2 separate regions of the Homo sapiens genome follow, and region 2 is linked to region 1. The links come from fine-mapping of genetic effects on gene expression. A gene starts in region 1. The other region holds a variant in brackets. All regions are shown on one strand. Distances are between the middles of the regions.

Region 1 (2,922 bases):
CAATTTCAACTACTATTAACAGTTCTTAAATACTAATTTCTGACATTTCTCCTTGCCAACATTTTTACTTCATGATTTCCCATTTTTACCCTAACCTCATTTCTAACAGTTCAGCACAATGATAAACTTTAGTTTTAAGTTCCTGTAATAATATACATGTTTAAGCCTTAAGAAAGGGGTCGCGATGTTTTTGACCCTTATTTTACTTCCTATCAAATAGATTGCCTTACAGATGAATTTCTTACCCTGCAGAATGGGTTTAAACTGTGCTTAACAGCTTTAGTTTTTGTGAGATTAACAGATTGTGAAAAATAAACTTAGCCAAATCTCATGTGAGGATTAAAAAAAGCGATGTCCCAGATAAGTCAATGTGACACTAAAGATCTAAACAATTTTTTTTAACTTTTAAGTTTTTTATCAAATTTCAGCACCCAGCAAATAATAGGCACTGTTAATATTTGCTTAATATAACGTAGCTGTGAATTTTTGCCCACATTTAGGCGGACGGGAAAATTAACGCCAGAATATCCCGAAAGTCAAATTTTGTCATCTTACACTTAGGAAGTTACGTTAAAAAATTCTCAAGTCTCGTAGTATTTTTCTTAAGCGCAATTTGGGAATTTCCAGTTACCTCGTGGTTTCCGTCATCAGGTTCTTGGCAAAGATTGCAATACAGTAGTTTTAGAACTATATTAACTAGGTATTCCATTAACTAGGTAAAAACCACTCGACTGACCTCGTGGTCAAATTCCTTACTAGTGCTGCTACTGACTTAATATGACCCTAGCAACCAACACTTTTCTGCCTCAGTTTCCGTCTGAGAAAGAGAGTTAATACCTACCTCAAGCAAAGTTCCACTAACTTATATATTTCAAGTGTTTTGTAACCTGCAGATGAAAAGTCAGCTGTAAATATTAATATAGTTATATCACAATATTTCCTTTTACAAATGTAAGTGAAAATAACTACTTCGAGCTCCATCATTTGCTCATAGAGAGAAATAAAATAAAAAGTTATCAGTAAAATGCTGAATCTTTTGTTAAACCTTTCTCGTAGGCCACGCGGCACGATCCAGGATTTAAAGGCTCGCGATACATCTACTTGGTAACCTTCCCCCTTCCCCTCCCCCACTTTTTACATGTAAGAAGAACGGAGGTAATAGAAGGCATCGGCGCTACGTTAACTTCGACTATATTAATGAGCATCACGATCTTCATTTTCATGATCCCGTAGTCCTCGCGGTCGTAGAAAATGAAAGGAAAGCAGCCGTTAACACAGGAAGAGCGAAAAAAGGACATTTTCCCTGGCGATCGTGGCCTAGAGGACACCAGGTTAAACCTATACAGAGGCTGAGGCCTATAAAACTGCCCCCGGCTTCAACCTAATCCCCCAAAACAAGCAGAATAAATGAGGGCCCGGTTAGTTAGGGGGAAGGATTCCCACATCTTCTCTCCCACACCCCCTCTCGCTTCCCGAAAAACCCAGCGCCTTCCCTGCGTCCGCCCTCTCCACTTACCAAGAAGGGGAGGGAGAAGAGATTCGATTCTGAGTCTCCTACTCCCGGGTTCTGCGTAGAGAAGCCGACTGCTGCTGGAGGTCGGCAACGCGGCCACAACCGCTCAGTCTTCGTCTCTTCACAAAATGGCCCCCGAGTCTCCTCTGCCGCCGAGGCGAAGGCCTAGTCCCCGCCCCATTCCTGAGAATCTTCCTATTGGCTGTGCGTTTTTTCGCTCCCGCTCCTAATTAGACAGTTCAACCGCTCCTCACAATGATATCCAATCACAATTAGCAGTGGGTTAGACTAAGCAGGCGAATTTCCACATGCGTGAGAGAAACTAGTTTATAACTGGTTAGTTTTCCTGTCATTTATTGCCTGGAGAATGCTTATTGGCTATTGCACGGGACGACCCTCTGGGTGGAAACTCGCCTTTGTATCGCGCACCGTCTCACATCCGGGTATCTGGGAGGCCTGATTGGCGGCCGCGGCGTCCTATCGCTGCCCCTTAGAGTGCCTAGTAGAAGATCCGCCCAGACCTCGGATTTCCGGCTGCGCGGGGGCGGGGAAAGGGTTGAGGGGCGTAGTTAGGTGACGGGCGCAAAAGACCTGCCCCAGCCCCGGGCCTAGGGAAAAAAAAGCGCGAAATGAAGCCTCCGTTGTGCAATGTGAATAAAGAAAGGACTTTTCTTAAAATGAGGAGGGAGCAGCAGTGACTAGGCCTTGTTAAAGTGTGTAGAAAACTAACCAGTCCTGCAGTTTTTCCAACCCCAGACCCTTTCTCAGTTCCAGATTCGAATGTCAGCTACCTCGTAGACATCTGCTTCTTGGCCTATTAAACCCTTCTTCAGACAACACATGTTCCATCGAAACCAACTGACTTCCTTATTCCTCTCCAATATAAAAAGGAAGTGCAGAATCCTGGCCTCTGGCCCCAGGGCATCTAATATCTTAAGTGCCAGCAAAATTGGCCCATCCTTCCAAATCTGGTCCCTTAATTTCCCTCCTCTTGAAATGGCTTGTCTCCTACCTACCCCCGTCACCTGCCAGTCTCTCTGGTTACATTATAGGAACTGCGCACGCAGTGGGGTAGCATCAGCTCTACTAAGCCAGCGGTTTCTTTTTTCTTTTCTTTTTTTTTTTTTTTTTTTTTTTTTTTTGAGGCAGAGTCACTGTCGCCCAGGCTGGAGTGCAGTGGCGCGATCTTGGCTCACTGCAACCTCCGCCTCCCGGGTTCAAGCGATTTTCCTGCCTCAGCCTCCTGAGTAGCTGGAACTACAGGTGCGCGCCACCATGTCCAGCTAATTTTTGTATTTTTAGTACAGATGGGGTTTCGCCATGTTGGCCAGACTGTTCAGGTGATCCGCCCGCCTCTGCCTCCCAAAGTGATAAGATTATAGGCGTGAGCCACCACGCCAGACCACTTT
Region 2 (2,922 bases), 60 kb before region 1:
CTTATGGTTTAAATGATGGTTACGTCTATTGTACTATTACATTCTTCCCAATCCTAATTTGACACCTGTTCATTTCCTTCCAATTTACCACCTTTTTGTTCCCATTTACATTATTTTCCTTTTCTATTACACCCGGTTCCCTCTGAAAAAGAGGATTTAAACCACGTAAGTAATAGGTACTAATCACACAATCTTTGCATGTTGGGGTAATATTAACATCAGAAGTGAAATACAAGAGGAGCCCTCCTTTTGAGAATCCCAAATTTAGCATCCATTCCCACCTGACAGCTTCCAGTTAGCTCATCCCACTGAGACAGCAGCAATTTATTAATTACCCTAGAAGAAGTTTCCCAATTATACGTTATGCAGCACCAGAAAAAAATGTTACTAAGGATTTTTTATCTACCTCCTCTCCTGCTTTCTAACCCTGAAATGAAAACTGCATTCTTGAATGATTGCAGGACATTTTCTTAGATTTCATGGCATATTGAGAAACTTGTGTTCTGAATTTTATCCCAAATTAAAATGTTTTTACTTTTAAATCTTACTTCCACTACTGCAGTGTAATCAGACTATCAATCTGAAATCCCTCAATTATTAAATCAGAAATCACTCAATTATTACCGTCAGATCTAACCCCTTTACCTGCACTGCCATGCCTACTATTCTGAATTTCTATTGAGCCAACTCAATTCTTACTTTGCAGGGCCCAGGGTTAAGTAATGTCACACTGACTATAAGCATATCATCTGATAAATGGCCTTTAAAAACACTAGCCCCTTTCCCAAAAAGCCTGTACTTATCTGCATTAGATCAGATTTTTAAAAGCCTTTTACCATGTGGTATTTCAATCCTGGTCTCTTTACTTTGCTACAGTTTTGGCCTAGGAACCTAAATGTCAAAGTACTCAATGAGTACACCTGTGATTATAGAAAACCTAGAGTACTGTTGTCTTAAACACGAGGAAATTTAAGCCACAGTAGCGTAGCCTAAAACCAAGAGCGTGAAATGACTTCCCCATCAACACAAACTAGACATGTCAGTATTCCAACAACCCTACCATATGTGTGTATAGATTTTCAATCTGTGATCATGCTCTACGGCTATTTGCAAAAGTAACTGCAGCTAATTAAAAGTAATGGCAAAAGCCACAATTACTTTTGCACCAACCTAATATTAAAAAGCGCTCTCCACAGCTTCATTCAATACCTGCTTTCCTAGAATAAAATGTATAGTTGGCCCCCCATGTTCATGGGTTCTGCACATGCAGATTCAGCCAACTACAGATCGAAAATACTAGCAAAGAAAAAAAACTAAAAA[A/C]AGTTAACAAAAATATAAATAAAAAAAGTTACAACTATTTACATACCATTTACATTTTATCAGGTATTTTAATGTAGAGATGATTTAAAATATACAGGAGAATATGCATAGGTTACATATAAATACTATGCCATTTTATGTAAGGGACTTGAACATCTGCAGATTGTGGTGTTCACAGCTAAACAGACTGCTCTGTGCAGGGAGAGGCCCTACAGTGAAGGGAAAAGTAGACACTTGATTGTGGACTAATTTGTTCAGTATTTCCCAAAAACTTACAGCTAACAATAATATTAAACAGGTTTTATTAGCATCTTATACATCTGACACTCTCTCCTAAGCATCCAGTTTATTTTCTAGTCACGGGTTACTTACTAAAAGTCTGTGTAACATGAGCTCACATCAGATTAGAAAACATCAAGTGGGTAGTATTTTTGACTGAATTAACATACAAAAGAAATTGCCTATATCATGTATATGGGCTCCAAGGGTAGTTCATACTTCAGCCTCTTCATTCTTTTCTGCTTTTGTCACCTGTTACAGAAAATGATCTATAAAATCCTCATAAATAAGACATGAGTTTTGCCTGTAATGAGTAGGATGAAAAAAGGCCAGTGCCGCATGCTATGAAACAATAGCAACTTTACAGGGGAATCCAAGGTTTGTGTGCACAAAAATTATAAGCGGCATTTTCTGCTATGCTGGAAAAACTGAAGTATAAAACACAAATGAACTAAGCCTTTCAAGGATGAGGTATCACCAACACTGGTAGCTGTTTAATATATTCATCTTACAACTGGATGCTAAAAATGCAATCACTGTAATTAATAAAGTTGAGGAAAACACAAAGATTAGCTAACAGGGGTAAAAGATCATTTAGAGTAAAATAAATGTGTAACATTCTCTATGTTCTCAATCACCTGGGAAGGCAGTCTATGGAATATCAGGAAGTAAGAGTTTTCTTGTTTTCAGGAACATGGAGGTATATACACTTCAGAATTCAGAAGGTAACTGGGGCTATAAATAGTAATTAAAAGAACAAAATAGAAGCAGGGGGGTTCCATTATGCAGCTGTCGCCATTTTCCTGAAATCTTGATGTTTTTGAGCCTCTCCTATTTAAGGACAAAACCATTTAGCACAAAACACAAACCTCAGAAAGGGTGCCAGCTGGACCACAAAGCACTGATGAAAAGGCAGAGAGGATATACTTCCCAAACTTTCATTAGGATGTAAAAGCCATTTTGAAAAAGTCTCCACTCTATGTCAAGTTGACTCCTCAATGCAACATGCATCTCAATGAAATATAATTTGAGTAGTGTTGTGTTGGTATGCATCATGATTATGACTCCAAGAAAAATATATCTAGTGCATTCTAGAGGTTTTGTGGAGGACGCTGTAAAACAAAGTTTGAAGTAAACAATAATAAAATACAAAAATAAAAAACCAGGGTTTTTTTTTTCTCCAAATTCCTGGTTTAATAAGGACTTGTTTATTTTGAGGAAAAAAGGTCCCAAACATCAGGCTGTTCACAAAAATAACCCACAGTATCAACTTTAGAAAACAAATCTTAAGACTATAACACTAATTATTTTTCTAGAGGATGC

Which allele goes with the higher level. Alleles are on the strand shown, and positions count from the first base shown. SD is a standard deviation of normalised expression in the study named.
For the expression in CD8 T cells of the gene that starts at base 1,661 in region 1, C is the high allele of the variant in region 2 and A is the other (moderate effect, 0.60 SD a copy in Kasela 2017).

The links.
Region 2: its variant is fine-mapped to the expression of HNRNPC in CD8 T cells (Kasela 2017, PIP 0.95). The same link has a PIP of 0.9 or more in B cells and monocytes.

What each region holds. Positions count from the first base shown.
Region 1 is chr14:21,267,782-21,270,703 of GRCh38, forward strand. It overlaps HNRNPC (heterogeneous nuclear ribonucleoprotein C), which reads right to left and starts at 1,661. Exons shown (of 9, transcript NM_004500.4): 1 at 1,517-1,661. RefSeq lists enhancers at 1,140-1,764, 1,402-1,661, 1,765-2,390 and a silencer at 1,752-1,831.
Region 2 is chr14:21,207,779-21,210,700 of GRCh38, forward strand. HNRNPC (heterogeneous nuclear ribonucleoprotein C) reads right to left here. Exons shown (of 9, transcript NM_004500.4): 9 at 1,369-2,922. Among named protein-coding and RNA genes, the nearest start is that of LINC00641, 2.3 kb to the left of the region's middle. The variant A/C (reference allele first, on the strand shown) is at 1,321.